Linked DNA regions of Homo sapiens: region 2 is linked to region 1. The links come from fine-mapping of genetic effects on gene expression. A gene starts in region 1. The other region holds a variant in brackets. All regions are shown on one strand. Distances are from middle to middle. Region 1 holds the start of SLC15A1 (solute carrier family 15 member 1). Region 2 has its middle 28 kb from the start of SLC15A1.

Evidence for each region. PIP is the estimated chance that this variant, and not a neighbour inherited with it, causes the effect.
Region 2: its variant is fine-mapped to the expression of SLC15A1 in sun-exposed skin (GTEx, PIP above 0.99).

Annotation. Positions count from the first base shown.
Region 1 is chr13:98,743,158-98,759,715 of GRCh38, reverse strand. It overlaps SLC15A1 (solute carrier family 15 member 1), which reads left to right and starts at 7,044. Exons shown (of 23, transcript NM_005073.4): 1 at 7,044-7,121. The coding sequence starts at 7,118. LOC105370330 (a long non-coding RNA gene) reads left to right here and starts at 1,519. Exons shown (of 3, transcript XR_931672.2): 1 at 1,519-1,650; 2 at 3,684-3,994; 3 at 4,133-4,594.
Region 2 is chr13:98,774,347-98,786,219 of GRCh38, reverse strand. No RefSeq gene overlaps it. Among named protein-coding and RNA genes, the nearest start is that of SLC15A1, 28 kb to the right of the region's middle. RefSeq lists an enhancer at 1-520 and a silencer at 4,111-4,405. The variant G/A (reference allele first, on the strand shown) is at 3,304.

The sequences.
Region 1 (16,558 bases):
CCTCTAGAAGCTGGAGAAGACCAGGCAATAGTTCTACCCAGGGCCTCCAGAAAGGACGCAGATTGCCAACACCATGAGTTTAGCCCCGTAAGACCCTTTCTGGACTTCTGCCTTCCAGAACTGTCAGCAAGTTGTGTTGTCTTAGCCACTAAGTTTGTGATAATTTATTCCAGTACCAGTAGAAAACGAACACCTTTTCTCAAAAAAAAAAAAACAAAAAAAAACTCATGATTTTTGCCAGTTATTTAATATACATATGAGTGGTAGAATATTTGAAAGATGGCCAGGTCTAGTGGCTCATGCCTGTAATTGCAGCACTTTGGGAGGCCGAGGCAGGCAGATCGCCTAAGGTCAGGAGTTTGAGACCAGCCTGGCCAACATGGTGAAACCCCATCTCTACTAAGAATGCAAAAATTAGCCAGGTGTGGTGGTGCACATCTGTAATCCCAGCTACCTGGGAGACTGAGGCTGGAGAATCACTTGAACCCAGAAGGCGGAGGTTGCGGTGAGCTGAGGTGTTGCAGTGAGCTGAGATTGTGTCACTGCACTCCAGCTTGGGCAACAGAGTGAGACTCTGTCTCAAAAAAAAAAAAAAAAAAAAAAAAAAAAAAAAGAAAGAAAAAAAGAAAATTTGAAAGGCAAATTAAGCAGTGTGTTATAGAAATACCTGAATTTTCTAAAATCTTTGTCAGCTGTGGCATTTGGAGAGATCATGTCTTGTAATTCTAGAAGATAAACATAGAGTAATTGTGCATGAGTAATAAGGTGTCAAGATGTATATTTATTCAAAATAACTGCCAACTCCATCACCTATAGTATTTTAAATGTATAGGACTTGACTAAAGCAGGTTGTCAGATATGTTCTGGTATTGTATAATTAAACCTGAAGTGAATAAATAGGACATTTGTGTCTGTATTTCTTTTTGTATTTTTTCTTTTAGAGATGAGGTCTCACTCTGTCACCCAGGCTGGAGTGCAATGGCACAGTCACGGCTCACGGCAGCCTTGACCTCCACCATGCCCAGTAACTTTTTGTGTGTACTTTATGTAGAGACAAGGTCTCCTAAGTTGCCCAGCTGGTCTCAAACTTCTGGGCTCAAATGATCCTCCTTCCTTGGCTTCCCAATGCTAAGATTACAGGCATGAGCCACCACGCCCGGCCATATTCTCTTCTTCCTTTTCATGTATGTTTGAAACTTTTCATAATAAAAAAATAAATAAAAAGAAAAAAATGCTCCCCGATAATAATACCCATAGCATTATAGTGAGGAAGGAATTAAATGAGATTGATCACAGGATCTATATACAGCAAGTGTGTAATCAATATTGATCATTACTACTGACACTACAGGCAATCAAGATTGAGAATTAGATTTGCAAGGAAAGTCTGTTTTAATTTAGATTAGTTTGGTGCTCATGGTAATGTACTTATTTACTATGGATCACTTTGTCTTCTAGATGCTGTAAATAGGACATCACGGCTTGGAAGCCCCCCAATCCCATGTTCCTGGGGCTAGTCCCTTAATATTCTGAGGCCTTGGGGGTTCATGTGCCACAACATGTGAATTTTGTCCACCAGCTCTTGGTTCCCAAGTGCCTTTGAATGAATTTGAGTTGCTTACTGGTCTTCCTCCTTCTCCTACTTTCCAGGTAAACTTCACGTGTTTATTCCCCTCCTACCTCCTCCCCACCATCTCATTCCATTTCCCAGACTCTCTCTCTTCTCAAATAATGGCTATGGGATTCACTCTTATTGTTTATTCCTCAAGTCCCTTCCTTAAACATCAGCATCTCCATAGCAACTCTAATTGCTGTATATTTGACATCTACTCAATTTCTCTCTGAGATGGAATGAAAAGGTCTTTACAGCCAAGCAATCTGAGGAACAGAACTGGAGGAAATGACGCTCTGTTACTCCAAAAAGTTTGCAAGCCACCTTTTCAAGGCCATGTTCTTCCTAGAATAGATTACTAGTATACCTTTGTATCATTTAAATGTGTCAGTAAGAAAACAAGGACAGGCCTAGTTTTGAACAACCCTGACTGCTACCACTGAGTGCTGATCTCATTGTTACAACATTTGCCTAAGGAAAATTCTCGGAAGCCAAGCAACACTTCTGTGTCTCCAGGACCAGCCTGCCAATTCTGTACACTCCAATTCCAGACTTGGGTCCCTTTGGGGAGTATAGTGGGCTCATGGTGCCTGCCTGGAACCCGGGCCTCTTTTGGAAAAAGGGTCTTTGCATATGGAAGCAAGTGAAGGATATGGAGATGAACTCATCCTGGACTAGGGTGGGCCCCAGCTCCAATGACAAGTTCCCTTACAAGGGAGGAGAAGGAGACAGGACACAGGGCAGAAGCCATGTAGAGACAGGGGCTGAGATGGAAGTGATGCTGCCACGAACCCCAGGTCACATGGAGCCACCAGAAGCTGGAAGAGACAAGAAAGGGTCCCCCCCAGAGCCTCTGGAGGGAGCATGCTGCTGATACCTTGATTTTGGATTTCTGACCTCCAGAACTGTGAAAGAACACACTTGTGTTTTCATAAGCCTCCAAGTCTGTGGCAGTTTGTTACGGCAGCCACAGGAAACGAATAGAATACATAGACTGTGTTGCCCATATGGAGGGTATAAAAACCGAGTCTACTGCTGACGAAAAGAGTCAAACTCCGTAAAATATTTGAAGAGATTTATTATGAGCCAAATGTGAGTGACCAAGGCCCCTGACACAGCCCTTGGGAGATCCTGAGAACATGTGTCCCAGGTAATCCCGGTGTAGCTTGGTGTTACACATTTTAGAGACATGAGACATCAATCAAATACATTTAAGAGGTACATTGGTTCAGTCCAGAAAGGCAGGACAAACTTGAAGCAGTAGGGGATGGGGGGAGGTGTGCTTTTGGATTATAGGTAGATTTAAAATTTTCTGGTTGACAATTGGCTGAATTTATCTAAAGAGCTGAGATCAATGGACAGAAAATGTCCGGGTTGCAATAAGAGGTGATGGAGACCAAAGTTTTATCATGCAGGTGAAGCCTCCAGGTAGCAGGCTTCAGAGAGAATATATTGTAAATGTTTTTTATTAGACTTAAGGTCTGCGTTGATGTTAGTGCCATGCCCAAGAGGTACAAGGAGGCACGTCCAATCCCCACTTCCCATCATGGCCTGGAGCAGTCTCTCAGGTTAAATTTTAAGAGTGCCCGGGCAGAGGAGGAAGTCCATTCAGATGGTCGGGGGGCCTTAGAAATTTACTTTTGGTTTACACTATTACCCCCTACACAGCCTGCCAGGGAGCAGCACAGCAAGACACAGGTCTCCAGGGATTGGCTGAGCTATTCAGGATCTGCAGAGCCTGTCTCCTTGACCCCCTTGGTTTTTGTTCTTCATTTAGGCTTCTCCATCTTGAGTACCTTGCCTCTTCTGGCCGTGCTGTAACGGATAAGAATGTGAGCTCTGTGGGCGCAGGCCTGTCTCTGCGCTGGCCACCCACTCTGCCCAATGCCGTCACTAGCATGGTAGTTGGCACTGGGAGGTGATAAATAAATAATGCCTGAATGAAGGATTAAATAAGCCTGTGGAAGAAACAGCATTTGTCTCGCAACTACTGAGAAGTTGCTGCACCCACTGCAGACGTTCTGATTCAGTAGCTCTGGGGCGGGGCCTGAGAATCTGCATTTCTCTCAAGTTCCTAGGTGATGCTGATGCTGCTGGTCCAGGGATCACAGTTTAAGAACCGCTGGCCTAGACCAAGAGTGTGTTTACAGAAGTCCGGATTCCAGGGTTCATGAGCTCAGCCACAGAAATACCACCCTGCAGAGAAAACTTTGACCTAAACAAACCATCACAAGCTCCACCTTTCTACGCCCGGGATATCTCGCAGGGTAGCAACTGTGAGTGTGCTTCCAAACCTTCCAGAGAAAGTTTTCCTTTCCTTCAGCCGAGGCTGCATTTTTCTACCTAATGAGGTCCTGTGACTTGCAGCCCCCATTTCTGGAGGTAACATTGACCGCTACCTTGTGTGTATCAATGCTGCAACTAATTGAAGAGTTTCTTACTCTTCAGCGGCAGTGAAGAAAGCCGGGGAAGGGCAGGCTCAGTCACCTCCATGGAATAGCAGTCTCTGTTTCTCCCTAGGCACCACAGTCTTCCAGAAAGGCTGGCTGGGAGAATGCTAAGACTCAAGAGATAATAGAGTCAGGTGAGTGGATAAACCAAGTGTGTTGTAGACACACAACAGAATATTCCTCAACTTCAGAAGGAAGGAAGGCTGATGTACTTCATACCATGGATGAGCCTGGAGGGCATTACCCAAAGTGAAAGAAGCCAGACACAAAAGGACAAACACTGGAGATTTCTTCCCTGGACGACAGAGTTGTCAGATTTATGGAGACAAAAAGAAGAACGGTGGGTGTCAGGGCCTGGGGGCAAGGGTGGATGGGGAGTATTGCTTAATGGGTCCAGTGTTTCCATTTGGGAAGATGAAGAAGTTCTGGAGCTGGATGGTGGGAATGGTGGGACAACAATGAGAATGTACTTCATGCCACTGAACTGTGCACTTCAGATAGTTTTACATTGTATTTCAGCATGATTAAAACAAAAAGGCTGTGGAAACTCACCTTCATTCCCCTTTTTAATGTTCCTTTCTGTGTTTGCAAAACCTCCTGAGATCAGGCAAGAAAACAGAACAATAATCTGGAGACAATCACTGTGTTATTATTTTTGTTTTGTGATTCTTTTTTGTAAATTATACTTTAAGTTCTAGGGTACATGTGCAGAACGAGCAGGTTTGCTACATAGGTATACACATGCCATGTTGGCCTGCTGCACCCATCAACTCATCATTTATATTAGGTATTTCTCCCAATGCTATCCCTCCCCCAGCCCCCCACCCCCTGACAGGCCCTGGTGTGTTATGTTGCTCGCCCTGTGTCCATGTGTTCTTATTGTTCAACTCCTACCCATGAGTGAGAACATGCAGTATTTGGTTTTCTGTCCCTGTGATAGTTTGCTGAGAATGATGGTTTCTAGCTTCATCCATGTCCCTGCAAAGCACGTGAACTCATCCTTTTTTATGGCTGCATAGTATTCCATGGTGTATATGTGCCACAATTTCTTAATCCGATCTATCACTGATGGACATTTGAGCTGGTTTCCAAGACATTGCTATTGTGAATAGTGCCTCAGTAAACATATGTGTGCACGTGTCTTTATAGTAGCATGATTTATAATCCTTTGGGTGTATACCCAGTAATGGGATCGCTGAGTCAAATGGTATTTCTAGTTCTAGATCCTTGAGGAATTGCCACACTGTCTTCCACAATGGTTGAACTAATTTCCACTCCCACCAACAGTGTAAAAGTGTTCCTATTCCTCCATATCCTCTCCAGCATTTGTTGTTTCCTGACTTTTTAATGATCGCCATTCTAACTGGCATGAGATGGTATCTGATTGTGGTTTTGATTTGCATTTCTCTGATGACCAGTGATGATGAGCATTTTTTCGTGTGTCTGTTGGCTGCATAAATGTCTTCTTTTGAGAAGGGTCTGTTCATATCCTTTGCCCACTTTTTGATGGGGTTGTTTGATTTTTTTCTTGTAAATTTGTTTAAGTTCTTTGTAGATTCTAGATATTAGTCCTTTGTCAGATGGGTAGATTGCAAACATTTTCTCCCATTCTGTAGGTTGCCTGTTCACTCTGATGGTAGTTTCTTTTGCTGTGCAGAAGCTTTTTAGTTTAATTAGGTCCCATTTGTCTATTTTGGCTTTTGTTGCCATTGCTCTTGGTGTTTTAGACATGAAGTCCTTGCCCATGCCTATGTCCTGAATGGTATTGCCTAGGTTTTCTTCTAGGGTTTTTATGATTTTAGGTCTTACATTTAAGTCTTTAATCCATCTTGAATTAATTTTTGTATAAGGTGTAAGGAAGGGATTCAGTTTCAGCTTTCTACATATGGCTAGCCAGTTTTCCCAGCACCATTTATTAAATAGGGAATCCATTTCCCATGGCTTGTTTTTGTCAGGTTTGTCAAAGATCAGATAGTTGTAGATGTGTGGTGTTATTTCTGAGGCCTCTGTTCTGTTCCATTGGTCTATATATCTGTTTTGGTACCAGTGCCATGCTGTTTTGCTTACTGTAGCCTTGTAGTATAGTTTGAAGTCAGGTAGCATGATGCCTCCAGCTTTGTTCTTTTTGCTTAGGATTGTCTTGGCTATGGGGGCTCTTTTTTGGTTCCGTATGAACTTTAAAGTAGTTTTTTCCAATTCTGCGAAGAAAGGCATTGGTAGCTTGATGGGCATAGCATTGAATCTATAAATTACCTTGAGCAGTATGACTATTTTCACGATATTGATTCCTCCTATCCATGAGCATAGAATATTCTTCCATTTGGTTGTGTCCTCTTAAAGAAAGGATGATTCTTAAAGAAAGGAAATGTAGAATCCCCCAGAAATGCTTTCAAAGGTTGAATCTCAAAATAAAGCCACACACACACTCTCACACACACTCTCACACACACATCACACATACATTCTCACATGCAAACTATATACATATTCTCACACATGCTCACACTCAATCCTCATTCACACACACACACTCACACACAATCCTCACTCACACCCACACACACATTCTCTCTCACACACACACACACACACACAGCTGACCACTGTCCCACCGTGTTTTGCCTCCCCACCCAGAAGCGTGCGTTCCTCCCACAGTGGTTTCCAAAGTGTCGTTCTGGATCCAGCAGCATCAACCTCCCCTTAGACTTCTTAGAAATGCACATTCTGGGGCCCCAGCCCCGACCTCCTGAGTCAGCTGGCCGGGGGGTGGGGCCTGGGAATCCGCGTTTAGACTGGCTCTCCCCCGGCCTGCCACGCGCTCCCGTCGGGGCCCACCCGCACCTGGGCCGGGGCTGGTGTCCACGCGCGACGGCTCGGGAGCACGGACCTCTGCTCCCCGCAGCACCGCCCCCCGGGTGGAGCCGGCGGCCCCGCCTCGCAGAGCTGGGGCTGTACCTGGGGCAACGGGGCCGGGCCTGGACGTCAGGTCGGAGGAGTAGCACCTGCCAGGAGCACGTCCCGCCGGCAGGTCGCAGGAGCCCTGGGAGCCGCCGCCATGGGTACGCTCGGCGGGTGGGGGGCCGGCCGGGCTAAAGACTCGGAGCTACGCGGGGCGGGGGCCGGCACCGAGGGCCGGGAGGCGCGAAGGGTACGCGGCGGCGGGAAGCGGGGCGACCCGAAGGCCCACGGGGGCCGGGAGGTTGCGGGGCGCCCGGGATCCCCTCCCGGGTGGTCACCGTGCGGCCGGGGCGCGGAAGCCAGAGGTGCCCAGAGGCGCCGACTCCGCCGAGGTTGCGATCCTGGCCCGCCCGCCCGTGGGGCACTGTAATCCTCGTATTCCCACCCTGCGGGCCGGGAGTGCGCTTGGAGCGGGACGGGACCCAGCGGGTGACGGCAGGGGCGGCAGAAACACCGTCTAACTGGCGGAAGCCTTGTGGCTGCCTTTGCACTTGTCTTGCCTCTGGCTGGCGAGGTGACCCTGGAGTTCCGCAGGGAACCCTGGCCCAAGAGGAGATGGGGCCTCTCTTTGTGGCCCCCTCTTAACCCTCTGCACTGTCCCCTGGCTTAATTTGAGGCACCTTCTGTGCCTTACAGAAGGTGAGGAGCTGGCTCTTGATGGGGCTGGAGCGTCAGCAAAACAGCTAGGAGGCAACTTGACTCCTGCCCCGCTTCCGAATTAATCACCCTGGAACTAAGGCAGACCCAGAGAGAATGAACGGAAGCAGAGCCAGAGCTGCTGGGAGCAGCCCAGCCCGCTGCTTTCTTAAAGATGAGGAAGCCCAGTCAGCTTCCCAAAGTTGTGCCATGGATGCCCCCGGCCAGCATTTTGCAGAAGATGTGGCCACGTTGTTGAGGGGGATCTGAGCCTGTAGACAGGAATGTCGGTCGGTGGCTGCCTCAGTGGTCCTGGTGGAGTGATGTGTGTCAGTGCCCAGCCCCAGGGTGCAGCCGTCCTCTGGCTCTCAGAATGCCTGCCGGACACAGCATGTGGTGGTTCCTAAGGAGAAGCAGTGAGTGGTTCACACTTTGGACTTCTAATTGTAGCCAGTTGTGCCTGTTCCAGAAAGACCTGCAACTTCCCTCTCTGGCGGAGACTGTGGCCGAGCTCAGCTCTGCAGGCAGATTCCTGGGCTGCAGTTCTGGGTCCCGCCCTCAAACAAGTCCCACCTGTCACTCTATGCAACTTTGCTGGGAGGTGCTCTGAACTATTTCTGTTGATCATCAAATACCAAATACCTGAGCAGCATCCTTGTTGAGTTGGAATTTATGACCCGTGTTTAGCATTTCCAGCAGATCCAATCCCGAGAGCTGTTAGAGGCAGCTGCCTGGTTATTGGTGAAGGAATACAGAGTTAGATTTGAAGCCTCCTTTCCAAATGAATTGATGCGTTCTAGTCTGCAACTGGTCCTCTCTGTTTGCAACTGAGATTGACATAGCATGTGAATAGCAACAAAAAAGTTGATATGCAAAAACCGATTTGATTTTTACTGAAGTCCTAACTTTTCAATATCAAGGGTTAGTTAGTAAATGAAAAAAAAATTGTTTAATGGTTGTTATGGGGAAAAAAAGTAGTAGTAACTTCTCTTAAGAACAGATCTTGGCCGGGCGCAGTGGCTCACGCTTGTAATCCCAGCACTTTGGGAGGCCAGGGCAGGTGGATCACCTGAGGTCAGGAGTTCGAGACCAACCTGGCCAACATGGTAAGACCCCCGTCTCTACTAAAAATATATAAAAACTAGCTGGGCATAGTGGCGGGTGCCTGTAATCCCAGCTACTCGGAAGGCTGAGGCAGGAGAATTGCTTGAACCCAGGAGACGAAGGTTGCAGTGAGCCAACGTGGTGCCACCGCACTCCAGCCTCCGCGACAGAGTAAGACTCCGTCTCAAAAAAAAAAAAAAAGAACAGATCTTTGGTACTTAGGTCATGCCAGAATTGCTTCAGATCCCTCAGTGACTGAGGGGACACTTGAAGCAGTTGGCGAACGAGGCAGGGGACAAAAAGGACGTGGTCCTTAGAGAAGCCTGTACCTCCTGCCTCTGACTTTGTCCCACTGTAATTGGAGCAAATTTTCACGGCAGGTGCTTTTTCATTCCTTGAGAATCCAGGAGCAGAAGTTCTGAATGAATAGGAAAGTGAGGGATTGGATGAGACTCAGAATCATACCATTAAGGCATTTATTAGACTTAGTAACAGAGGCAAGGAGAATCCACAACAGTTAACAGAATAAATAGAAGTTGCTTTGGGGCTGGGCGCGGTGGCTCACACCTGTAATCCCAGAACTTTGGGAGGCCGAGGCGGGCGGATCATAAGTTCAAGAGATCAAGATCATCCTGGCCAACATGGTGAAACCCCGTCTCTACTAAAAATACAAAAATTAGCTGGGCATGGTGGCATGTGCCTGTTGTCCCAGCTACTAGGGAGGCTGAGGCAGGAGAATCACTTGAACCCGGGAGGCAGAGGTTGCAGTGAGCCAAGATCGTGCCATTGCACTCCAGCCTGGACGACAAGAGTGAAACTCCGTCTCAAAAAAAAAAAAATGTTGCTTTGGGTGTGGCAATGCACAGCCAAACCTGGCTGAGTGTCTTGTTGGGCTCATGAACGGCACCTCCTTTGTTTTAAAGCAGTGGTCGACAGTCTCTTCTGGAAAGCCCCAGGTAGGAAATGCTTCGGGTCCTGGGGGCCAGGTGGTCTCTGTGGCAACTTCTCAACTCTGCAGTTCTAGAGCAGCCGTACACAATCAACAAATGAGCAGAGCAGTTTCTATAAAACTTCATTATGTACTGAGACATTTGAATTTTATGTAATTTTCATGTGCCACAAAATCTTAAAAAACTTTTTACAATCACTTAAAAATGTAAGCTTACATTCTTCTTAGCTTGTGAGCCACACAAAAACAGGCAGTGGGCCAGATGTAGCCCATGAGCCATAGTTTGGGGATCCTAGCCAAGGTATCTGTGTGGTTCTCAGAGCCTGGGGTGGAGAGATGTTCTTTTCCCAAGGGCTGTCAGGTTGAATTCAGTCTCTGAATAGCAGAAAACTTCTTATATGCTGGGAAGAAGCGTCAGTAAGAAAAAGCAGCCTCCGAAGCCTTCGTAGGATCATAGGGCTGGGGGTGCTTTTGCTGAAGGTTTTGACTATTTGATCTCTTTCCTCCCACCCCACCTCACTCCCTTATCCAAAGCTTAGCAAGACTATGCTAAATGGACTCTGAAAATTAGGTACAAGGCTTCAGGTTCAATGCAGCAAGCACCTGCCTCTATCTGCCAAGACCTCCAGGTTGATTGGAGATACTCACTCACTTAAAGTAGGATACTTTATTCTCTTCCTGCCCCACCAGATCTCAGCCTCCTGGCTGGCCTTGTTTGTGATTCTGATAGGTTTTTCCAAGTCAGCTGCCTGAGCTTAAAATGATGGATGGGCTGTGAAGGTCCCTCACACCTGGTGCGTCCCTCCACATTCTCTCCTCCTCCTGTCAACTCTTGAGTCAACCGAAGAACAATATTGAAGTACCAGGGCAGCTGGTGTCCCTGCTGCAAGCTATAGAGGTGGTCCCACACTGAAGGAAGCCTTTGGCATATGACCTTCGGGGGAACTCACCTCCTCCTAGCCAGCAGCAAGAAAAGAGAACTTCTAACATTGGGTTCTTTTGGGCTAATATTGCTCTAAGTCAGCGTTTTTCAAACTTGAACATGCATCAGGCTTATCTGAGTGAGGGCTTGTTCCAGCAGTGGGGCTCGCTGGGCCTCTTGCCTAGAGTCTCAGGTGCAGGGTAGAGCTCATGCACTGACATTTGACCACGTTCCCACGTGGTGTGATGCTGCTGCTCCCAGGCCCACGCTTTGAGAACCACGACTCTAAAGATCCCCTGGGTTCTTTTTTTTGACCCCTGCCCATGTGAACATGTTGCCACTGTGCCCTAAAATTAGGCTGTGGGAAGGTCTAGTACAGTCTGGGCCCTGGCTTGTCCATGTGGGTACATGTCCGTGATGATGAAGCATTGGGTAAATTAGCAGGTAGAACTTGAGAATTAGTCTGCCGGTGCCGTCTTAACGTAGGGATAGCTGGGCACTGCGGCTTACGCCTGTAATCTCAGCGTTTGGAGAGGCTGAGACAGGCGGATCATTTGAGCTCAGGAGTTTGAAATCAGTCTGCGCAACATGGCAAAACCCCGTCTCCACAAAAAAAATACAAAAATATTAGCTGGGCATGGCGGTGCGCACCTCTAGTCCCAGCTACTCGGGAGGCTGAGGCCAGAGGATCACTTGAGCCCAGGAGGTGGAGGTTGCAGTGAGCTAAGATTGCTCCACTGTGCTCCAGCCTGGGCAACAGAGAAACTGTGTCTGAAGCAACAACAAGACAAAAACAAAGAAGTAAAGAGAGTAGAAATGAATAGGAGTGAGAAATGAATGTGGTTCAGCTGGGCTGGCCAGGATGCACCTGAATTGCATATCTATGCAGGTATTTACTTAACCATGTGAGGATAAAAATAATCCTGCCTGAAGAAATTATATCCTCAGGGGGCAGGAACATAAGCCCGTAAACAACACTCTTCCACTCCGAGTTAGAGTTGAGGAAAATGAGGTACTATGAGACCAGTGAAAGCAGCAACTAGGAGTGTTTGTCTGAGCAGGAGGGTTTGCCTACTTTAGGTTTGCCCAGTTTGGATGGAATGCTAAATGTTTGCATGGTCTTTCACGTCTCTTACAAAATGTCCTGAGTAAGATTATTCCATTTTCGATTCCCTTGGGTTTTTTTGTTTGTTCATTTGTTTTTTGAGATGCAGTCTGCTCTGTCAACCAGGCTGGAGTGCAGTGGCACAATCTCGGCTCACAGCAACTTCTGCCTCCTGAGTTCAAGCAATTCTCCTGTCTCAGCCTCCAGAGTAGCTGGGATCACAGGTGCGCACCATCACACCTGGCTAACTTTTGTATTTTTAGTAGAGACGGGGTTTCACCACGTTGGCCAGGATGGTCTCAAACTCCTTACCTCAGGTGACCCGCCTGCCTTGGCCTCCCAAAGTGCTGGGATTACAGGCCTGAGCCACTGTGCCAGGCTGGGTTTTTTTGATTAATAATTTTTTTCTACTGCCCTTTGAGTTACTGAACCATTCCATGAAGAACAAACAGGGCTTACTCAATGGGCTAGTTGAGCTACCAGGAATCCTCCCTAGAAAATGGGACTGCTACTCTATTCCCCATGGTGGAGCTGCTGATGACTGGGGGCCTGGTGTAGAACTTTGGAGCTAAGACTTCCCAGCCAGGTGTGTTCCCATGGTGGAGGCAGAAGCTCTCAGACACAGTTGCGTCTTGATTCTATGCTTTGCAGGATGAGAAAGTGGGTAGGTGTCCCAGGTGAGCCGATAAGGAAATAAAAACAAGGGTCAGGCCTGAGGAACCTTTCCACATTCTTCCTTGAGGACAGTGAGAGAAAGAGCAGTATTCTCAGCTGAGCGAGCACGGTTGACTCATCATCCCGGGGTTGCAACACCAAGAACCAGGGAGTCACTCTTTTGTACCTTTGTCCCTTGGTTTCAGAAGCTGGAAGTCTATTGCGGAGGACACTGGACCCTGGGTTCACCTCATGGATGTGATACAAAGGAGGCTGTGTCAGCCGGGGTGGGGGGGGCCACACCTCTTCTCTCGGCCCCTCTGGTTTTTGGGGTTTAGGATGAGGGCAGCTATGAGAACACAGTTAAAGCACAGGCTCAGCCGTTGGGAAGTGCCACAGCCACGGGGCACAGGGACAGGGTCTTCCACAGAGGCTTAAGAAGGAGGAAGGTCTAGTTCCTCTCCTGGTTCCTAGACTGGAAACTGCTCAAAGCTCCTCACCGGGCTGCGGAAAGGGGTCTCTCATTGGAGAGAGGGTTTAGAGTCCTCCAGGTATGATGTGGGGATATGGAACAACAGGTCCATGTCCAGAGGGAATTTTGGTTCAGAGATCAGATTAACAAATAGAAAATTCACAAAATGTACTTCCATAAGAAGGCTCGTTAAAAGTTCTCAAACTAGGCATTTAGAACTTCTACAATCTGCCCCTAGTGACAAGATTTTATTATAAGCTCTATTAGGACATGGCAGATGTTTATACATTTGAGATGTTCTTGAGGAAATAAACGTTTTTCCTTTTTTTCCATTAAATCAAAACACCTTGCAGAGAAAAGGGAATGCTTATACACTGCTGGTGGGAGTGTAAATTAGTCTAACTATTGTGAAAAGCATTGTGACAACTCCTCCAAGAACTACCATTTGACCCAGCAGTCCCATTACGGGGTATATACCCAAAAAAATATAAATCATTCTACCATAAAGACACATGCACACATATGTTCACTGAAGCACTATTCACAATAGCAAAGACATAGAAGCAACCTAGATACCTGTCAATGATAGACTAAAGAAAATGTGGTACATATACACCACGGAATACTACGCAGCAATAAAAAAACAACAAGATCATGTCCTTTATAGGAACATGGATGGAGCCGGAGGCCATTATCCTCAGCAAACTAACAGGAACAGAAAATCAAACACTGCATTTTCCCACGTATAAGCAGCAGCGAAATGATGAGAACACAAAGACACAGAGGGGAACAACACATACTGGGGCCTACTTGAGGGTAGAGGGTAGGAGGAGAGAGCTGTTTGGAAAAAACCAACTATTAGGTATTAGGCTTAGTACCTAGGTGGAAAAATAATCTGAGCATCAAAACCCTGAGTCACGAGTTACCTATATAACAAACCTGCACATGTACCCCTAAAATCGAAGTTAAAATGGTAAATAAATAATGTTACAAGTTAAAAAAAAAACAAAAATACATCAAGACACCTAAACTCACATGGTGTACTTGTTTGCTATGGTGTCTGTAACAAAAGCACCACAAACTGGGGAATTTGAAACAACAGAAAAGTCTTCTCTCACAGTCCTGGAGGCTGGGAGCCCAGAGTCAAGGGGTCAGCAGGGCCACACTCCCTCCGAAGGCTCTGGGGGTGAAGCCGATCCAGGCCTTTCTCTTGCTTCTGGTGTGGCTGGTGGTCTTTGGCATTCCTTGGCTTGCGGACACACCCCTGCCGTCTCTGCCAGCCCATCTGTCTCTGTGTCACTTTTCCTCTTCTTAGGAGCACTCTACTCACATTGGATGAGGGACCGCCTTGTCCCAGTATGACCTGGTCTTAGCTAATTACAGCTGTAATGATCCTATTTCCAAATAAGGTCAAGTTCTGAGATTGAGAAGGATGTGAATTTGTGGGGGGATGGGCAGGACACTATTCGACACCCCGACATGGTAACAGAAAGTATTCTCTCTGAACTATGTCCATGGCTTATAGATGACTTTAGGTAGAAAACATTTGTAGTGTAAAGATAACTCCACCATGGTCCTCAGCTCGGATGCTATGTCTGGTGACCAGTTCCTTCCCCCAGCAAGACAGATGGGTTTTCTGGTCATAGTTTCTGGTCAACTGTAAACGGTCCACTTAGTAAGAGAGTTGGTACGTAGAAAACAGGCCCCAAAGTGATCTAGGAGACACAGGCGATTTACCTCTAGTTCTAAAAACGACGTTCCCATTCTGTTGATGCGGTACTGTGGACCTGCAGATAAAGTTTCCAGGCAGTCTTCATGTGCAGTGTTTCACTTTTCTGGTTTTTGAAAAATATAGCTGTTTCTGCTATGCATGCTAATTCTAAAATTAGAAGACTGAAAAAAATAAGTCACCTGACATTTTTATGGAGAATTGTTAGAGAATATCTAATGAAATTTAAAATACACACAATATTTTAACAGCATTCTATGTCTAGAACTTTCTTACAGATATTCTTATGATAGGAAAGAGCCATGTGCAACCCAAATATTAGGTTGGTGCAAAAGTAATTGCGGTTTTTGCCTTTTTTTTTTTTTTTTTTTTTTTTGAGATGGAATCTTGCTCTGTCGCCCAGGCTGGAGTGCAGTGGCGCGATCTCGGCTCACTGCAACCTCTGCCTCCCAGGTTCAAATGATTCTCCTGCCTCAGCCTCCCGAGTAGCTGGGATTACAGGCACATGCCACCACGCCCGGCTAATTTTTGTATCTTGTGTAGAGAGGGGGTTTTGCTACCTTGGCCAGGCTGATCTTGATTTCCTAACCTCATGATCTGCCCGCCTCGGCCTCCCAAAGTGCTGGGATTACAGGCGTGAGCCACCGCACCCGGCTTTGCCATTACTTTTAATCTATCATGTGGGCAGAAAACTTGCATTCTGTTTTATACCCTAACGTCATACTTAACCATGATTGTAAAGCATTTTTTTCTAGTCATGATTTACCATTAAAAAAAAAAAAAGTCTGTGTGTGTATAAGTTAGGGTCTTCAACCTCATTGCCTTGAAAAACAACCCTCCAAAAGACCAAGAGATTGGTTCTTTTTTTTTTTTTTTTTTTTTTTGAGACAGAGTCTCACTCTGTCACCTAGGCTGGAGTGCAGTGACACAATCACAGGTCACTGCAGCCTTGACCTCCCTGGCTTAAGCAATCCTCCTGCCTGAGCCTCCCAAGTAGCTGGGACTACAGGCACGTGCCACTATGCCTGGCTAATTTTTGTTATTTTTTGTAGAGGTGGGGTCTTGCCACATTGCCCAGGCTTGTTTCCTTTTAATTTAGCGACATTTATGTATCTTTAGAGTCATTTTCTCCTGTGACAATATACAATATTATTAGGGCCACCGTTTCTGTTGCCTGCTGGGTGTGGGGAGCTGATGCTGTCCCGGAGGCTGGTATCTGCTTCCCTTTGTGTTCTCTCCTCTTTTCTCCTTCTAGAGTCTGCTCTGAGGAAGGGTCTCTCTTCTCTTTAACCTGAGCATATATTTGTTTATTTACCCTCGGCAGTCTGGCATTTAAAGAGAGTCTCACTCTTAGTTCTGAAGGAAAGGTGTTCTTCTAGACTAAAAATATCCAGGTGTAGATCAGGAAGCTAACTTGGAGAGCAAGGGTTGCTGTACTAACAGCCAGGAAAATCATCTCACCTGACTACCCGGCCTCTACCTGAGGCAGGACTTAGGACTGTCCTGAGATCTTTCCTGTTTTGCCAAACAGCTTTGCTGCATGTGAACCCTGGAGCACTCTGTGGTCTGGCTCACCTTTCCCTGAAGCTGAGAGCAGGTTGGAAATCAACTGTCTGTCAGCATGTCCAAAGGTGGCTGGATCCTGGGTCCCAGAGAGATCATTTCTTCCTGAAGGAGGACAGGAATGGCGTTCAAAGATTCATGCCTGTAGTTACAGGAACAAGATGCTGAAAGTTGTAGGTAATTTATAAAACCACGAGAGGTTGGTCATTTCAGGCCTCTTCAGCCTATGATTTTAGATAGTTGTGTGTGGAAACCTTTTTAAAAGCTAGGAGGATATCTGAACCTAAATCAGTAAGTTGTGACTATTGTGGGCAAATTATTTATCCCCCAAAATGCATATGTTGAAGCCCAAAGCCCCAATACCTTGGAGCGTGACCTTATTTGGGAATAGAGTCGTTGCAGAT
Region 2 (11,873 bases), 29 kb before region 1:
CGACTGGCTCATGGTAAGCCCTGAGTAAATGTTATTATTGTTATTATTTTTTAACCAGGACTCAGCACAAATAAGGGAAGAGGAGAGAATTCAGCATTAATTCTTGCTCAATACTCCCTTTGACCCATGTTTTCCCACAGGCGTTCTAGGGAACATTACCAGTTCCAAGGACATGGGATGTTAACAGGGACATTGAGGGACAAAAAATTAAAAGGAGGTTGGGTTTCCTTGTTATAAGAAGTTAGATTGAGCAGCTTCTCCTTTAGTACCTCTCAAAGCCTCTTGGATGAACTTTGCTTCTAAGACAGGTCCCTGCTAATGACTATTTCCCCAAATCCACTGACAGACACACCTGCTCCTCTAGAGCCTGGCCCGCGGCCAGGGTCCCACAAATGCTCTCTGAGAAATACTCCAGAGACCACACAGACTGGGCCCCTGTCCTGCCTCCTTGGCTGCGGTTCATCCCTGGTGGCAGAGGGTGGCTCCCAAGGGTCCTCGGTTAGCAACTCCAGCCAGGAGCAGGGGTACAGCCATCACCTGCCCCACCTGGGTGGCTGTCTACTTGCCCGCTTAGCCAGACGCAGTGATGGAAGGGGCGCAGGTTGCCCACCCCAGTGGGCTGAGCCTGCACCCTTGATGTAGGAGGTTTCCTGGCACAGGCTGGCCTGATATCTGCTGCTGGTCCGGGCTTGTCATGCTGCGCATACACCGGATGAGGACGCAGCACCGGAGTCTGGAGCTTGCACCTTCTTGTCCACAAGTGACTTGAGCAGATTCATTTTCACTCCTGTCTCTCCCCCTGCAAGTCAGGGGAAAGCCCGGGCATCCCCTGCCTCACGGTGGGGAATGAAATGCGTGCTAGAAGGGACCCCAATAATGCACTCTTCCATTTGGAAGAAGCAAGAACAACGGCTACAATCGTTCCTTGAAGTCTGTGTCAGTTGGAATTTGCCTGGAATATGGTGGCGCTGGCTGAGAGGGGGTGGTGGCTCCTACTGGCATGCTGGTGGGAGTCATCTGGAACTGACCCTAGAGCTTTCTGAGCCTTGCAAAAGAGCCACAGGTGAAGACATGAGGCTGAATTGTGAGGCCCTAGAAATGGGCAAGACCACCGCTGAGGTTAGACCCAGGCCCAGATCCGAGAGTTGCTGAGAAGCCAAGGGAACCAGTGTCTCTGGACGAGACACTGAGCTGAGCTCCAGAAGGTGTTCAGCAGATGCTGGTGTGCAGCTCAGGAAGGAGGAACCCACACAGCCCCGGGCAGACCTTTGTCCTGGTGTGACTGACCCATCAGCTCAGGAGGAGAGCAGGCAGGGCCTCCTCCTCACAAAGGCTGATCCCTCTGTGTCAGGGACACTCACCACACCCTCTTCCTACGCTGCTCTCAGGTGCCAGCACTTTCCAGTGTGACCCTTAATCCTCAGAACAATGCTGCCATGTGGGCGGTGGCTTCCTGTGAAGAAACCATGGGCAGAGAGATGGGCAAAGTTGGCGTAGTCACACGGTACACGGGGAGATTCCTCTGACCTGGGGCCTGGTCGGCCAAGGTGCTCAGCACCTCCAGGCCACACCGGCCTCTGCAGAGATAGGGGCAAGTCCTGCAGGCTCCACTGTGCCCCCACCAAATTCGTGTATTGAAGTCCTAACCCCCAGCACCTCAGAAAGTGACTGGATTTGGAGTAGGGTCTTTAGAGAGGTAATTAAGTCAACATGAGGTCACTAGAGTGGAACCCAATCCAACAGGACTGGTATCCTTGTGAGAAGAGGAGATCTGAACACAGACTCACACAGCAGGAAGGTGAGTGAAGACACAGGGGGAGGATGGCCGTCCACAGGCCAAGGAGAGAGGCCTGGAACAGATCCCTTCCTCATGGCCCTCAGAAGCAGCTGCCCCTGCTGACGCCTTAATCTCGGACTTCGGCTTCCAGAACCGTGAGGCAGTGACGTCTGCTGCTTAAACCACAGCCTGTGGAGCTGTGTTGTGGCAGCCGAGCGGACTAACACAGCCAGACCCCATGCCACACAAGGGGATGGGGCCATGGTGCTCCAGGACATGTGGGGAGACTCAGATCCTTAGAGAGACAGAGGTTTGAACAGAAACATCACCAAACCAAGACAGGATGAGGACAACAAGTTTCTGAAGGAACTAGCCTTGCTCTGAAACCAAGATTGGGAAATATTGTCACCGTTGGCTGTGGCAGCCCCGTCCGACTGGTTCTGAGCAGGTGCTTCCAGGAGTGGGGCAACAGCAGGGCCCACATTGCCTGGTAAATGACTTCCCACCTTTCCAGGTGGGCATGACCGGAAGTGAGTGGGAGGTAATATGGCCCCTCTCTCACCATCTGTCATAAGCTGTCACAGACAGCCACCCAATGTCCTCTGCTTAGCTTGGCAGTGTGAAAGGAGCACTGGATGAGGAGTCTGAGAGGCTGGATTCTAGCTCAGTGGCCCAAGTGTGGAGTCCAACACCATCTGAGCTCCAGCTTTGACACCCATAACTGAGGAAAATCCCTGTTTCTCTTGACTTCACAGTTTCTCTGTCAAATAACATCATTTACTATTACTATATCCCCAGCCAAAAGGATTGTAGGGGCTTGTAATAAAAACATAATCAATAAAATCATTCAAGCAAGCATAAAATAATGGACATTAAGGAAAGAAGGGAAGAGATGGTTGTTTGTTATCCTTAACAATACAGACTAAGCCCCAAATTTAGCTCTGAGCATCCTGGCAGCCAAGAGAAAAAGGGAAACACTTTCAAAAGTAGATTAAAAAAATGTTTGAAGTTTAGAAGATACAGTACTTTTTTAAAGTTACACACTGTACAGAATTTAAAATGATAATTTTCTTTCAACGTGCACATTTCAAACATGAAGAACAGAATCCATGGCCAGGCTCTACACTCCGATTTCCTACATTTCTAGATGTTGTAGACTTCCTAGATTTGTGTAGCTTAAAATAGAGGAATTTATCACTGTTATCTCCACCCAGTCACAATCTCATGTTCTAGGCAAATCCAGTAAACTTTCCCCCTCCTCTCTTTATAAAAAATAGCCTCTGTACTTTTTTCTAATTATAAAAGCACTATTTGCTCCTAGTAGAATGTGTATAAAATACCAAAAAATAGAAATGAGAATTTAAATATCCACAGTCCTCCAACCCTCATCCCTTCCAGATAACTGCCATCGACACTTCACTGGCTCCATTCCAGCATTTTCTGTCTTCTGAGTTTCCTGTTGTTTCTTGACCCACATAGTTGAGGTTGCCTCAACTTTAGAAGTTTTGGTTCCCGGTAAATACTGT[G/A]TAGGAGCACCTAGAGTTACCAGATTTTCAACGTGACTCAGAGCTCATTTTCCTTAAGATAAAAATTGAGCAACAGGTTTCTGCCATCTTTGCTCTGCCCACCCACGTGAGCCTTGGGTCCACAGCTGTCTCTGCAACAGGAGCTCTGCACAGCTGGTCCAGAGCACCCACTTCCTCCAATTCCCACCCCCAAATGGGCTCTACTTTGCAGATAGTAAGAGCCCCTGGTGGAGTGAGAACCGTAGTTTTGAGCCACTGTAACTTCCTTCACCCATTATTCCTACTGTCTTGGTGAAGATTTACCTGGAGACAGGGTGGGCTTTGAGAAAGGATGTCTCATTACCATGCCCAAAAAGCCTCGTGCACCTCTCAGAATTTCCTTGTCCTTTTCTATTTCACCCCGTGAAATTCCACCAAAGGAGGTTCACACACATTAACACGTGTCATTGAAAAATTCCATCCTAAGATAAATCTGCTCCATGGATCTTGTGTGGATTGTGTCACTGTTATTTTTCTACTCACACATATTAGCTGTGCCATGGGAGGGGTCGCCTTACTGAAGGGAGCAAGAGACGTTGTTTTAGAACTGAGTAGAGGAAAGAAATCCTCTGTGTGGCTCTGCAAGGAAAGTCCGTGTAGCCCTTTTGGGCTGCTGGGTCCCCGGGACACAATGATGCGGCCGGAGGTGCCTGAGGCTCTGCCTGCTTCACCAGTGCCAGTGTAGACCCCCTGCCTGTGGAGTCCAGGTTCTCAACCCCCTTCCCCCGACCTCCATTACTTGAGCGGGTCAGCTTCCTTGAGTGTATGTGGGACAGAAGGGATTTGCTCTCCATTCCTCCTGAGTTGTCCACATGGCAGTTGCTCTTCCTGGGCCACCACACACCTCCTTGGGAATCCTGGAGTCAGAGGAAGCTTCTACTTTAGTGTGGCAGGCAGTGGGTGATAAGGTGCAGGTCGTGGGTCCCTTCTTTCCCCAGAGCCCCAACAGCAGCCTGTACCTGTGCCTCCCATGCACCTCTAGGGAGAGGCCGTGGCCATGATGGGTGGGAGGTCCTCAATCCCAACAAGGCACCCAGAAAGCTAGCCTGTCTGGTCCTGGGGGCCCGCTCTGAGGTACCCACGTTCCGACCATGCTCCTATGACCTCAACTCTCCTGTCCTCTGACAGAAAGTGAGTCCTTGCCAAAGCTCCATGCCCCTCACCATCACAGTGTCCAGCCAGGTCACAGCCGTCACGGCTATGCGTGGAGCACGGATTCCCCCATCAACCCGTGATGCTCTTGCCAAGTTTTCCAGGGCCTTGTCCTCAGTGCTTGCCTCACTTGACCAGCAGCAGTGTGGGAGCCAAAGCTTGCTCCGCCCTGAGCACCGTCCTCACTTGGCTGCCGGGAAGGACACACCTCTCCTTCCTCCCTCACACCACAGGGGTTCCTCCTGTGCTGCTGCCCAGTGTCTTATTTCCCGGGTCCCCTGGGTGCAACGCTCACTTCTTGTGGCTTGAATGATCTCATTCATATGCTGACCATACGACGATGTCCTTCATCTGTGTGATGACTATGATGACATCCATCATCTATGTGATGACTGTGATGACGTCCATTATCTATGTAATGACCACGATGATGTCCATTGTCTACGTAATGACCATGAAGATGTCAATTGTCTATGTAACGACCACGATGATGTCCATTGTCTATGTGTTGACTACATGATGATGATCATCATCAAGGTGATGACAGCGTTGACGTCCTGAGCGACAGAGTGATGTCCATCATCTATGTGATGACATAGATCATCTATGTGACAACATCCATCATCTATATGCCAACTATATGACTACATTCACCATCTATGTGATGACCCCCCTCCATGTCTATGCTAACTGTATGTTGACATCCATCATCTAGGTGATGAATTTGAAATGTACATCTCTGGCACAGACCTCTTCAAACTCCGGACTGTTAGTCTCCCTGTCTACTTAATAACTCCACTTGGAAATGGATTCAAATCTGAAATTCCACATGCATGAAAGCAAAGCACTCAACAAATGAAGTCTTTCTTGGCCCAGCTGATGTCACCATCATATAAGGATGAGGTATGTGGAAGAAAATTGGCTATACAATTGTATACAGTGGGACCAAGGTCACACAGCTAGGAGCTGGGGTTTGAAACTATGAGCTTGGCTTCAGAGTCTGCATGTGTAACCATCATGCTATTCTTCCAAATTCAAGCCATCCTAAATGCTCTTTGTTGCTTCCGTTCCTGGTTATAAATCACAAAGCTGGTACATAGTGAGCGATCCAGAAAGGAAATTCCAAACAAAGCCCAAGACACCACTTCTTCTGGAGCTTAGGATTCTCATATGTGCTTGACTCTGATCTATGCATTTCCTCTATTTTTTTATTATACAGAATTTCAAACATATAAAAAAGAAAGGCTGGGCATGGTGGCTCATGCTTGTAATCCCAGCACTTTGGGAGGCCGAGGCAGGCAGATCACTTGAGGTCAGGAGTTCGAGATCAGTCTGGGCAACATAACAAAACCTCGTCTCTAAAAACACAAAAATTACCCAGGCATGATGGTGTGCACCTGTAATCCCAGCTACTCAGGAGGCTGAGGCAGGAGAATGACTTGAACCCAAGAGGCGGAGGTTGCAGTGAGCCAAGATCGCACCACTGCGCTCCAGCCTGGGAAACAGAGTGAGACTCCATCTCAAAAAATATATATATATATGTATATATGTATAATATATGTGTATATATATGTGTAACTATATTATATATGTATACACACACACACACACACACACACACACACACACATAATGAAACAAATAAATAGAAATAAAAAAGAGACAAAACTGCCCAATGCCTCCCCATGAACCATCCAGCTTCAGCCATGATCAATGCTTGGCTAGTTCCTCTGCTGTGTGACTTGAAGCACATCCTAGACACCACCTCATTCCATCCCCTCATATTTCAAGGCATTTCTCTAAGAGATAAGGATACTCGCTTGACTTTTAAAATTCACAGTTATCCACTGATGTCATCAAACCTCCAGTCAGTGTTATCTCCAACTGTCTTTTGATGCCATAGTAATTTTTTTCACAGTTTTCTCATCAGTACTCATATTTTGAGTAGGTATTTCTTTTAAGCCTTTTCTAACCTATAAATTTCCCCTCCACCTTTGAGTTCCCTGAAATGTATTTGTTGAAGAAAATGGGGTGTTTTTCCTTCGGGGTTTCCTGCTGGGTTTCCCAGATGGCATCCCTAGAGTCTGTCTCTCTCTCTCTTTTTTTTTTCTCGTAGACAGTCTCACACTGTCCCCAGGCTGGAGTGCAGTGGTGCAATCTCAGCTCACTGAAACCTCTGCCTCCCGGGTTCAAGCGATTCTCCTCCCTCAGCCTCCCAAGTACCTGGGATTACAGGTGTGCGCCACAACACCTGGCTAATTTTTTGTATTTTTAGTAGAGATGGGGTTTCGCCATGTTGCCCAGGCTGGTCTTGAACTCCTGACCTCAAGTGATCCACCTGCCTCAGCCTCCCAAAGTACTGGGATTACAGATGTGAGCCACCACGCCTGGCCAGAGTCTGTCTCTTAACACTTTCCTCTCTCCTTTGTATTTCCTATAAATGGATCATTGGATCTAGAGGCTTCACCAAATTTAGATTTGGATTTTTTTGGCGAGATTACTGATAATATTGATAGATGGTGCTGTAATCTTCCATCTAAAGGCAGATATGTCTTGTGGGGCTGTTATGATGTTCGATTTCATTGATTACAGGCTACAAAATCGTGATGTCTGCCTTCACCTATTAACTGGAATGCTCCTGGTAAGGAAAAAATCCCCTTATCTATACCATTTGGTCAGCCACCAGTACAGCCACCACAGCATGAATACGTAAGTGTTTTCTTTTAATTTCCAGTTTGCAAAACAATGAGTCAGTTCCCTGCATCTCCCGCAGTGACGAGTTTGTTTTTCCCTTTCGTGCCAGAATGAACTTAATTGATTTAAACGTATCTGATGTGTTGCACTGACTTATTTTTATTGATGTTTAAATGGTCTCGTCTTGGCCGGTGTGTGCTTCTCCAGGTTGCTACTGGGCCCTGTTGTCTTGACCCTCACAGTCTTTGAGAACATCTTTGCTATTGGATATGATGTTGTGGCTCATCTTGTACATTTCCTGGCCCAAACATGGAATCAGCTCATTCTCCAAGGATTCCAGGGGGTTTTTTTAAGTTAGAAATTTGCAAGCCACCCTCTGGACATGGCTGAGGGTTGGTCATGGATTTTAAGCTTTTACAGTGGAAGAGCTAGGAAATACACATCTATAAAGTACTTCTGCTGGGCACAGTGGCTCATGCCTGTAATGCCAGCACTTTGGGAGGCTGAGGTGGGCGGATCACCTGAGGTCAGGAGTTCAATCAAGACTAGCCTGGCCAACATGGTGAAACCCCATCTCTACTAAAAATACAAAAATTAGCTGGGCATGGTGACAGGCACCTGTAATCCCAGCTACAAGGGAGGCTGAGGCAGGAGAATCGCTTGAACCCAGGAGGCGGAGGTTGCAGTGAGCCGAGATCACGCTACTGCACTCCAGCCTGGGTGAGTACAGAGTGAGACTCTGTCTCATAAATAAACAAACAAACAAACAAATAAATAAATAAAGTACTTCCTAGCCCAGGAGCTCCTAACCACACTTCTAACTCATATCCAAGATGGCAGCGGTTCCTCTTCCACCTTCCGTCTGTATCCCCTTTCTCTCACGCTGATATTCACGGCTTTTGGGACATCAGGAATGATAGAATATCACTAATGACCTATTGCTTCATTCCACGTTAGATACCTGACAACCTCAGAATAAGAATACCAGCACCATCTCAGCAGGGTTTTAGGGCAACTACTCCATATGATACTATAATGGTGGATATGTGTCATTATACATTTGTTAAACTCAAGGGCTAGTCTGCATGTAAATGACGGACTCCCGCTGACAATGATGTGTTTATCGTGGTTGATGGAGTCCGACAATGTATGGCCAGTGCAGGTCGTTGACAGTGGGGGAAGGTGTTTTGGGGGTTGAAGAGTGGGAGAATGTGAGAATTCTCTGTACTTTCCCCTCAATTTTGCTGTGAACCCAAAACTCCTCTAAAAAACAGTCTATTAGGGCCCGGCGCTGTGGCTCATGCCTGTAATCCCAGCACTTTGGGAGGCTAAGGCAGGTAGATCACCTGAGGTCAGGAGTTTGAGACCAGCCTGGCCAACATGGAGAAAGCCCGTTTCTATTAAAAATGCAAAATTAGCTGGGCGTAGTGGCACATGCCTGTAATCCCAGCTACTTGGGAGGCTGAGGCAGGAGAATCGCTTGAACCTGGGGGGTGGAGGTTGTGGTGAGCCGAGATCGCGCCACTGCACTCCAGCCTGGGCAACAAAGAGTGAAACTCCATCTCAAAAAAACAAAAACAAGTTCTATTAATTTTTTATAAATTCATGACTCCAAAGCCAATTATGCGAGAAAACAGATGTAAAAAAGTCTAGGCTGGGTGTGGTGGCTCACAGCTGTAATCTCAGCACTTTGAGAGGCTCAGGCAGGAGGATTGCTTGAGCCCAGGAGTTTGAGACCAGCCTGGGCAACATGGCAAAACCCCCATCTCTCCAAAAAATACAAAAATTAGCCAAGTGAGGTGATGTGTGCCTGTAGTCCCAGTTACTCAGGAGGCTGAGGTGGGAGGATCAATTGAGCTGGGAGGTGGAGGCTACGGTAATCTGTGATTGTGCCATTGCACTCCAGCCTGGGCTACAGAGCAAGAGCCTGTCTCAAAAAAGAAAAAAAAAGTCTAACTTTTGTGCTTGTTTTCATTATTCTTCTCTACTCCTTATATAAAACAAATTTGAAAGGTTTTGAATTCTCCTTCCATTTATTTTCCATATCACACACACATTCATCTCCTCCATTCTTGGCTCAGTGGTGGCACACTGTCCCCACTTAGCACTCCGTCTGATGGACATTTCTCCACAGTAGTTGTACATGTCACTTTGCATCTGAAAACCTGTCTTTGTTACTGGAAGCACAGTAATTTACCCAACTGTTGAAACAGTCTCGCTTTTCTTTCAGAGCAATGAAAACTAATGTCACATTTTCTTTTTTTTTTTTTTTTTGAGACTGAGTCTCACTCTGTTGCCAGGCTGGAGTGCAGTGGCACGGTCTCGGCTCCCTGCAACCTCCACCTCCTGAGTTCAAGCGATTCTCCTGCTTCAGCCTCCCAAGTAGCTGGGATTACAGGCATGCACCACCACGCCCCGCTAATTTTTGTATTTTTAGTAGAGATGGGGTTTCACCATGTTGGCCAGGCTGGTCTTGAACTTCTGACCTCGTGATCCATCCGCCTTGGCCTCCCAAAGTGCTGGGATTATAGGCGTGAGCCACCGTGCCCGGCCTTGAGCCACCGCGCCCTGCCTGAAAATGTCACATTTTCAAGGAAGCACGTACCAGTGTACGCAGTGGCCTTGTGCAAATTTACCCCTCTGGGTGCTCTCTTGCAGCTCCCCATCTCCCAGGCAGCTCTCCTTCCCGGGCGGGGCCCACATGCCTATCTCTGGAATCAGTGTTCGGCCGTCCTGTCTCTGACTCTGATGTGCACTGAGTCATCGTGTAAAACCTCCACACACTTCCCAGGTCTGTCAGATCATGGAGCAAAGTCCCCTTGTAAAGGAAGGGACGATTCTGCTGAGGCAGAAGATGAATTGACCTCTTGCCTTTCGAGGAAGGCTCCGGAGCTGAGCTGGGTGGAGGACACTTGTTCTACCTAGTGGGCTCCCAACACGCAACACCTGAGCCAGAGACCCGGCATCCCCTCCCCATCCACTCTCTCAGTCAGGCCGCACTCCAGGGTCCCTTAGAAGGTGCAAATGCCACTGTACCCAGTCTTTGTGGAGGGGCTGCTACATGCGGCCATTGTGAAGACAGGTTGATCTGGGATTTTATATTTTTAAGAGGACATTTAGAGCTCAGCTGTGGAGTCATCTTTTTCAGCCTTAGAGTGATGCGTGTTTTCCAACTAAGAGGATTTGATGTGGACTTTTGATCACAAAAAAACTGGATTTGGGAGAGTCTTTGAAAGTCTACTAATCGGTGGTTCTCAACACCCCGCCCCCATGCCCCAGTCCACCAGGGGATGCAAACGAAAACGTCTGCGGACATTTTTGGTTGTCATGGTTGAGGGTGGGGGTGCTACTGTAACCCTGTGGGTGGAGGGCTGGGATGCTGCTGAACATGTCACAGTGCACGGGACAGCCCCCACAACAGACAGAGATCGTCCAGGACAGCAGTACAGCCACGGCGGAGAAGCCTCCGTCTAAGCTCTTGTTGGTCAAGGGGTGACCTGCAGCCCAGCAGCCGCGAACAGACAAGTACTTGGGAGCTTGCGGGCAGAGGGTCCTCGTCCACACCCAGAGCCACCGAGCGCAAGTCTGCATTCCAACAAGCCCCAGGGGATTCCTTTGCACAGTAGGGTGTGAGAATCACTGCTCCCTGTGACCCCAATGCCAAGAGGGGCCTGACAGCAAAAGTCAAGTGTCCCACTCGAACACAGGGCTCCAGAGAAGCTCTAACTAGCCAGCTCATTGAACACCTTCAAGATATTTATTGCAAGGAATGATTTGCCCTGATGAAGACACAGAGTCACTAGAGAATGTGTAGAGACAGAGGCCAGCAGCATTTTCATTTTTAATCTCAAGAAGATTCCACAAACCTTTCAGTAGCAGGTGCCAGCGTTTTGAAGCCCCCTTACGGCTCTTGGTGGCAACACTTGCTGGCCAGTTACCGAGGGCATGACTTTGAAGCCCTCCACCCACTGCCCTCTGTGGTGTCCTGAGTACCTGACTAACCCGCCCAGGAACAGAGCTTCACCAGGATGGAGAAGAGGTCTCGTCCTTGCTCCGGTTCTCCTGGGGCCCAGCCCCATGCCTGGCAACCAGTCGAAGCTTGGCATCCATTGGACAGATGGATGTAGGAGAAGCAGGGACAGAGGAGGTCCTGGCCCCCAACCCCAGATGCCCTGAATGAGGAGGGAAATATTCTCCTTCACATGGGAAAATGGCCACCTGGCTCCCAAGCCGGCTGTGTGGGGAGCAGGCACGTCTGAAGGGGTCTGGCCTCTGTGTGGTCCTTTCCCACCTGCAGAAAACCAAGCCTGAGTGCTTTGCCTTCTCCATGTTTTTATTTTTATTTATTTATTTTTTTCTTGAGACGGAGTTTTGCTCTTGTCGCCCAGGCTAGAGTACAGTGGCATGATCTCGGCTCACTGCAACCTTCGCCTCTCGGGCTCAAGCGAGTCTCCTGCCTCAGCCTCCTGAGTAGCTGGGATTACAGAAGTGTGCCACCCAGCTAATTTTGTATTTTTAGTAGAGACGGGGTTTCACCATGTTGGCCAGGATGGTCTTCAACTCCTGACCTCAAGTGATCTGCCCACCTCAGCCTCCCAAAGTGCTGGGATTACAGGCATGAGCCACCGGGCCCGGCCCTCCATCCATTTTTTCAATATGGGATGCACACACATTCAAGGCAGGCC